Homo sapiens: one gene and its partner. The protein of the gene in region 2 purifies or fractionates together with the protein of the main gene of each other region. This does not show direct contact. Each region holds a gene or a part of one and is shown on either strand. Other genes may lie near its edges.

What was found. The genes of interacting proteins can lie anywhere in the genome.
Region 1: the proteins of ZNF384 (region 2) and TUBA3C purify together in Homo sapiens (affinity purification with mass spectrometry, with the first as the bait; 3 studies listed by BioGRID). This does not show direct contact.

The regions. Positions count from the first base shown.
Region 1 is NC_000013.11:19,173,272-19,176,048, forward strand, and holds the end of TUBA3C (tubulin alpha-3C chain), read right to left. Parts: intron 889-2,777; coding exon 592-888; 3' UTR 501-591; downstream 1-500. UniProt on the Homo sapiens protein: Tubulin is the major constituent of microtubules, a cylinder consisting of laterally associated linear protofilaments composed of alpha- and beta-tubulin heterodimers.
Region 2 is NC_000012.12:6,675,290-6,680,686, reverse strand, and holds part of ZNF384 (zinc finger protein 384), read left to right. Parts: intron 1-67; exon of another isoform or gene 68-164; intron 165-1,161; 5' UTR 1,162-1,166; coding exon 1,167-1,232; intron 1,233-1,503; coding exon 1,504-1,741; intron 1,742-1,976; coding exon 1,977-2,024; intron 2,025-2,226; coding exon 2,227-2,560; intron 2,561-3,427; coding exon 3,428-3,520; intron 3,521-3,835; exon of another isoform or gene 3,836-3,900; intron 3,901-5,397. UniProt on the Homo sapiens protein: Transcription factor that binds the consensus DNA sequence [GC]AAAAA. Seems to bind and regulate the promoters of MMP1, MMP3, MMP7 and COL1A1.

The DNA of each region.
Region 1 (2,777 bases), on a different chromosome or scaffold from region 2:
CTGAGGGGCAGAGTGGCCGTGTGTGTGCACGGAGGGCAAATGCTGTCTTCCAGGTTACTGTGGAAGGCTGGGTGTGTTGTAACCTTCTATGGGTCACGAATGCTGTGCAGAACACAGTAACACTCTTTCCCTTCTAAAATGTCCTGACCTTACACATTTGACCCACAGCTTTAGGGATTTCATGGACAAGCCCCATCCACAGACCTCAGATTTAAACACTCCATGTCTAGACTCTTCTTTGTAGCTCGCATCACCCATCAATAGAAAAGCCCCCAAAGTTGCAAATTCAGTTGAAAACCCTGACTGTGCTTTCCTAGAATTTAGGAAATCTATTTCTCCGTGTCAAGTTACTTCTGTGGCAGCTCCTTAAGTATGTACCATCCCGCTGCACCCAACTCCATGCTAGCAGGGCAGGCTGGCACCCCACCACTGTCCATGCAGGCTCTGGGGGTCCCACCTGCTCCTGCAGGCAAAGCTAGGCAGTACGATACACAGAGGTCTTGGTTTTATACAGAACCTTTAATTGCAAAGAACTTGAAAGCAGCCACGCTGGGGGTGGCAGTGGAGTGGAGAACCCACCACACCCTCCCCTCAGTATTCTTCACCTTCTTCAGCCTCGGCTTCCACGGAATCCACGCCCACCTCTTCATAATCCTTCTCCAGAGCTGCCAGGTCCTCGCGGGCCTCAGAGAACTCCCCCTCCTCCATGCCTTCTCCCACGTACCAGTGCACAAAGGCCCGCTTGGCATACATGAGATCGAACTTATGGTCCAGGCGAGCCCAGGCCTCCGCGATGGCCGTGGTGTTGCTCAGCATGCACACAGCCCGCTGCACCTTGGCCAGGTCTCCCCCAGGGACCACCGTGGGGGGCTGGTAGTTAATGCCCACCTGCCGGAGAAGAGGAAGAAACAGTCCATGAAGCTTATATCAAACCTGGAAATGGTGGCTGCTTTTCCTCAAAAAGAAGACACCCTGTAGGTGAACAGGAGAATTCTCAGTTCACCCCACAAATGTCACTAAGCCCTTCTCTGTGCCAGGCAGGGTGACAGTTCCAGACAACATATGTTGCCCAGGCTGGCCTCAAACTCCTGGGCCCAATCGATCCACCCACCCCAGCCTCCCAAAGTGCTAGGATTACAGTCATGAGGCAGCATGCCCAGCATTTTTTTTTTTTTTTAAGAATAAGGTATTTTCTAAAGGATTTTTGTGCCCCTTTCTTGGGTGGTAGAATTCATGTGGAAAAGGTAGGTTGAACTTAGTAATTTTATGGGCATTTTGGGGAATCTTGTAGGTGGTGTATATATTTTATTTTAACTTGGGCATTACTATAAACTGCTTCACAACATCATTCGTTCCACTGTCTCATGTAGGGTTTGATTTAAAAAAAGAATGAGTTGTTTGTGATGAAAACAGCAACAGGTGCAGTGGCTCACACCCATTATCCCAGCTCTTTGGGAGGCCAAGGTGGATTTCTTGAACTGAGTTTGAGACCAGCCTGGGCAGTATGGCAAGACCCTGTCTCTACCAAAAATACAAAAAAATTAGCTGGGCATGGTGTCATGCACCTGTGGTCCCAGCTACTCAGGAGGCTGAGGTGGGAGGATTGCTTGAGCCTGGAGGGCAGAGGTTCCAATGAGCTGAGATCCTACCACTCCTTGGGTGACAGAGCAAGACCCTGTCTCAAAAAAATTAAAAGGCCGGGCACGGTGACCCACACCTGTAATCCCAGCACTTTGGCAGGCCGAGGTGGACAGATCACGAGGTCAGGAGATCGAGACCATCCTAGCTAACATGGTGAAACCCGGTCTCTACTAAAAATACAAAAACAAAATTAGCCGGGTGTGGTGGCGGGCGCCTGTAGTCCCAGCTACTCGGGAGGCTGAGGCGGGAGAATGGCATGAACCCAGGAGGCGGAGCTTGCAGTGAGCCAAGATCACGCCACTGCACTCCAGCCTGGGCGACACAGCAAGACTCCGTCTCAAAAACAAAACAAAACAAAACAAAACAAAAAGCAGCAACGTCTTTATTTCTTTTCCGGGAAGCCTAGTAATTTTGGCCTGGGTTTGCCTCAGACACAAAATCTGTCCCCACCTTCCACTGACACAAAAGAAACCTTGCTGTCCTCTTTCAGCTTTATCAATAGTTGGTTACTAAATCTTGTGGCATTTCTCTGTTGGGCCTGTGCGTTCTTGTGCTGTGCTTTCCCTGCTGCCTCTGGCTCAGACCCCCACCGTCTCTGTTGGGGGAGACCACTGCAGTCAGTTCTGACTGGGATTTCCTACTGTGGGTGTCTCTTCTTCTCCTTCAGGGGTTAGCACAGCTGCTGGACTAGCCACCTAATTTTGTAAGATCTTGTCTGAACACAGCCACCACACCCCTTCATTTGCAGATTGATTTTGCTATCCGACAGCAGAGTGGGGTAGGTGTGACAGAGGTCGTGTAACCTGTAAGGCCTAGAATTTGTATGATCTTGTCTTTTTTTCTTTTTTTGAGACAGAGTCTTGTGCTGTCACCCAGGCTGGAGTGCAGTGGAGTGATATCTTCTCACTGCAACCTCCACCTCCTGGGTCCCAGTGATTCTCCTGCCTCAGCCTCCTCAGTAGCTGGGATTACAGGTGCCCGCCACCATACCCGGCTAATTTTTGTATTTTTAGTAGACACGGGATTTTGCCCTGTTGGCCAGGCTGGTGTCAAACTCCTGACCTCAGGTGATCCGCCTGCCTTGGCCTCCCAAAGTGCTGGATTATAGGCATGGGCCACCATGCCCATCCAATTTT
Region 2 (5,397 bases):
CTCAAAATATGTTTTGATTCTGATTTTTTTTTTTTTTTTGAGACGGAATTTTGCTCTTGTTCCGCAGGCTAGAGTGCAGTGGCGCGATCTCAGCTTACTGAAACCTCCGCCTCCCGGTTCAAGCAGTTCTCCTGCCTCAGCCTCCCAAATAGCTGGGATCACAGGCATGTGCCACCACGCCCAGCTAATTTTGTATTTTTAGTAGAGATGGGGTTTCACCATGTTGGTCAGCCTGGTCTCGAACTTCTGAGGTCAAATGATCCACCTGCCTCAGCCTCCCAAAGTGCTGGGATTACAGGTGTGAGCCACCATGCCCAGTCTTCATTTTTTAATTTTCTTAGTCGTATTGTGTTCTGGCCTGGAACCTTCTCAAACTACACAGAACTGTAGACATATTGGTTGGAACTCTTGAAATTTTTATTGGCTGGGCACAGTGGTTCACGCCTGTAATCCCAGCACTTTGGGAGACTAAGGTGGGCTGATCCCTTGAGCCTAGGAGTTCAAGACCAGCCTGGGCAACATGGAAAAACCGTGTCTCTACTTTAAAGAAAAAAGAAATTAGTCTGGCATAGTGTCACACGGCCTGTAGGCCTAGCTCCCTGGGAGGCTGAGCCTGGAAGATTGAGGCTGCAGTGAGCTATGATTGTGCCACTGCAGTGTAGCCTGGGTGACAGAGTAAGACCCTGTCTCAAAAACAGAAAAACTAAAATTTCTATTTCAAGGAATATAGTTTTGAAGAATAAGAGAAAGAGGAGTCATGCTAGGTACTGGCACCTGGCCGTTTTCAAGTCAGTCAGTGATTTGTTTTTTGTGACCTTAGCTACATCATCTCCCCTCTCGTGAGCTCAGTTTCTTTTTGCCAGCAAAGGAAAGTAATACCAGTTTTTCTTTAGGGGGCATGAATAACATTGTGTGAGTAAATGTGATACGTATAAGTTCTTTCACAGTCATGAAGTAGGATAGCCTCTGTTGGATGGGGATACAGTGACAAGGGGCTCTGACCAAGGGACTAATGTGCTAGACACTAAGTCTTGACTGCCAGTCCCCAGCCATGTGATCAGGTGCCAGAGGAGACCAGGAACTCTTCAGTTCCCCTTCTCCATTGCTTAGCTTTTTCTGAGTAATTCCTGAGTGTGACATGTTCTCTCATTTTTTCTTCAGGTAGAATGGAAGAATCTCACTTCAATTCTAACCCGTACTTCTGGCCTTCTATCCCCACAGTCTCAGGTCAGGTAAGTGGTGTTGCTTTCTTGCTCTCTCCAAGTCTCAGTAGTAAGTTCTGTTACTATGGAGACTGAAGGTACACCACATGCTGTTTTACTGGGTCCCCCACCCCTGAGAATTATCTAGTGTTTCTGCCTGGGCTTCTCTCTAGAAGGCCAGAGGTATGAAGTGCTCATCCTTGATCCCTAAGGAGGACAGACACTGAAGTGTGCTCACGAGCAAGCAGAATCAGCCTCTCAGGCTGAAGAGGGTGCTCCCGTCCCCTTCCTTTTCTCTTAGATCGAGAACACAATGTTCATCAACAAGATGAAGGATCAGCTGTTGCCAGAGAAGGGCTGTGGTCTGGCCCCACCTCACTACCCCACCTTGCTGACAGTGCCTGCCTCAGTGTCCCTGCCCTCAGGCATCAGTATGGACACAGAGTCCAAGTCAGACCAGCTGACCCCACACAGCCAAGCGTCCGTTACCCAGAATATCACGGTGGTCCCTGTGCCGTCTACAGGACTGATGACTGCTGGTGAGCAACTCTGCTCTTCTCCAATCTGAGGTGTTGATCTTCCATGATCAGTACCCCAGGCTGGAGGGCTCCAAGGACATGGGGAGTGGGATATGTGTTTGATTATTCAATCAAATTTTTATTAAGTGCCTACTGTGTGCCTAGCAATGTGCTAGGCATTGTGGGGGATACAAAGAAGTAGAAGATGCGGTCCCTGCCTTTGAGGAGGTGACATTCTTTCCTTCTCTGAATCAAGGAGTCTCCTGTTCTCAGAGGTGGAGAAGAGAAGGGAGTCAATCAAGGGGTAAATCTCACTGTTACCAGGGGGGTGGGGACAAGGGTTAGGAGACCATTATTTTTCTACAGGGTTTGGGATTTCCTGTGTACTCTGGGTTGGGTCGGCGGGGGGGTGAGGGGTTAATTAGACAATGATCTGGGGGAAATGAAATAGGATTAGGATCAGGACTGAACAACATGACGCCATCTCCTTTTTCTCCCAATCCTAGGTCCGGGTTTGGTAATCACGTCCCCCTCAGGCTCTCTTGTGACCACAGCATCATCAGCTCAGACCTTCCCCATTTCGGCTCCCATGATTGTCTCAGCTCTTCCCCCTGGCTCACAAGCCCTGCAGGTTGTCCCTGACCTCTCCAAGAAGGTAGCATCGACCCTAACCGAGGAAGGAGGCGGAGGTGGTGGTGGAGGTGGCAGTGTGGCTCCTAAGCCACCCCGGGGCCGGAAGAAGAAGCGGATGCTGGAATCAGGGCTGCCCGAGATGAATGACCCTTATGTCCTCTCCCCTGAGGATGATGATGACCATCAGAAAGACGGCAAGACCTACAGGTAAGACTCAGAGCCAGGGGCAGGATGGGGCGAGGATCCCTGGCTTGGTGATTCTCCCTGTACCCTCATTGTGTTCTGCCCCGGTCAGGCGCTACACTCTGACAGCTTCCCAGCTCTGAGCCACTTGCATGTCAGGTGTCCCATCATAGGATAGGAGGCAGAGCTGCTAGCATCGTGTTAGGATGCAAAGACCCATTTCACCCTTTCCTTTTTTTAACCCTTGTTTTGGGGGTCGTTAACACTGACTAATTTTTTAGTAACAGAGTAGAATTTCTCTCTTGTAATAAGGCTTTATGCTGGGTTTGAGACTCTTGGCTGCAGCTCCTTTTTGCTTTCTACATATTCCATTCCTATTTTTCTAAGAAACCTTTCTAGTAAGCACCTAACCTATGTGCCATCCACCAGTTCCTGGGTCGCATTTGAACACTGAGCCTGCCTTACCCTGCATGGTTGGGATGATGGGAGGGGCCTTCATAAGAAGGTAGGAGGAATAGGATGCCTCCCCCTTTGGAATATGTACTTAAAGAATGACTTTGCTCACTTTCTAATTTATGAAAGTCATTTTGATTCTCCACTTCCTCTAAGTTCCCCTTTACCAAAAAGCATTATATGCGTATTTGCATGTGATACTCTACAAAAATAATTACATAAGTAAACTCCCTGCCCTTTGAAAGTTGAACATCTTTTAATCCCTTTGAGAACTGTCACGTGCCCTAGTGGGTTTGGGGAGTTTGGTAGCACTGTATAGAGTGGGATAACTACTGTCACAGCTTTGATATAGACAGGGGCAGATGTGCATGGCTGGGAGTCTGGGTCTGTCCTTAGTTCCTTAGTGTACCCAGATGGGCAATGTTGTTCCCATTTTAGGAGCGAAGGGAACTGCGGCACAGGAAATGGACAGAGCCTTGGGCTCATGGATTCAGTTCCCGGCTCCACCACGAATTTGCTGTGTGACCCTGGGCAAGTCCTTTTCCCCTCTCTGGGCCTCAGTTTCCTCATCTGTAAAATGGGGATAATTCTGTTTATGCCTCCCGTTTGTTGGGAGTATATATCAGATAAGATTTGAAATGTTGGGAACTTCAAAAGAAAGTTAAGAAATTAGTTATTTAGCATTTATTTTTATTTGTGTTGTATAGTTCTACTATGGAGAGTAGCCTACAGAGTGTTTAAACCGCTCTTTATAAATGAAAATGAGAGGAGTGTTGCTATGCAGAATTGAGCACTGCAGAATTCCAGCTCATAATCCAAAAGTTCATTGCAGCTTTATTATTACAGGTGTACCCCACTTTATACAATAAAAGTGTTCCTGGAAAATGTTTCCATCATATCATATTATAAAGGTACCTGACAAGTTTGATTCATTTAAAGGCATTCTCTTATATATCAGTTCATAAAATTAAAATCCCTTTTAAGTTATCGTATAGAAATCTAGATTTTTATGTGTTTGTTTAAAATGAGGCCATTGTGAGATGGAGATACATCTATATACAATTTGTGGAAGTAGTAGAAGGATCCTTTAACACTCTATAGAGCCCTTCTAATGGATCAGGGTCCTCTCATTCTGCCCTTTCTTCACTGTGACCCACATTAAAGCTATCTCTGGACTTTCCAAACTGTATATATTAAAAGAAATGCACATATACAGTTGGAAGAAAGCCTCATGGGGCTTTTCACACATTCAGTATTTTTGGAATTCCTGAATGACCATCCACCCAGGAGACTACAAAGAACTTTGAAATTGAAGGGAGACTTATTGTATCCTAGGTAAACAGAATTTCTTCAGAAACTCAGAACTCTTGACATTCCAAAGAAATTTTTTTTTTTTTGAGACGGAGTCTCGCTCTGTCGCCCAGGCTGGTGTGCAGTGGCACAATCTCAACTCACTCTTAACTTCTGCCACCCAGGTTCAAGCGATTCTCGTGCCTCAGCCTCCCGAGTAGCTGGGACTATAGGTGCGCCACCACGCCCAGCTAATTCTTTTGTATTTTTAGTAGAGACAGGGTTTCACCACGTTGGCCAGGCTGGTCTCGAACTCCTGACCTCAGGTGATCTGCCTGCCTCGGCCTCCCAGAGTGCTGGGATTACAGGTGTGAGCCACTGTGCCTGGCAAAAGAAATCTTTTTATCACAGTGAATTTCTGTTTTGATGCATGTGTGGGTCAGCCATACCCTCTTCAGTGGTCAGTAGCATTTGACTGGCTATTGGGGCAGTTGGGTTCTGTTACTCTGGTCAAGTCAACGTATCTCCCACTCTTTGTTCCCATATATAAAATGGGAAGATCAGCCATGCCTTCATCTGTCTTGTAGAAATGTTTTGAGGCAAAGTCAGAATATTTGAAATTGTTTTGAGCATTTTAGGAAAAATGGATAATAATTCAAAGTGGCCATACTTGTAATTATTATAATCAAGGCCATTGCATTGCATGCTTCCAAGGGGTCCCGTTCTCATTGTGTTGGATGTGAATGGTGCCCCTGGAGGAAGGCACCCCATGATATGGATGCTGGCTTTTCTATCCCCTGCTGACTGCCACGACTCTCCAAAACTAAATTTCTTTCCAACCACCCAGCACCTTGCATTAGAGGACTCTCTTACTTGACTTCATAGGATTTTCAAGTTGGAAATATTTTAATGATCTCCTTGGTCAGTCCCTTCCTGGCAGATGATTCCAACCTCTGCTTGAATACCTCTGGTGTTAAGAATCTTAAAGTAGGCTGGCATCATGGCTTTGTAGTGAATAACTGCCCTTTGGCAAATTACTTACTTTCTGAGTCTTTGTGTTCCTTTCTGTAAAAACATGGATAAGACTTGCCAGGTTGTGAGGAGTAGAAACAATGTGT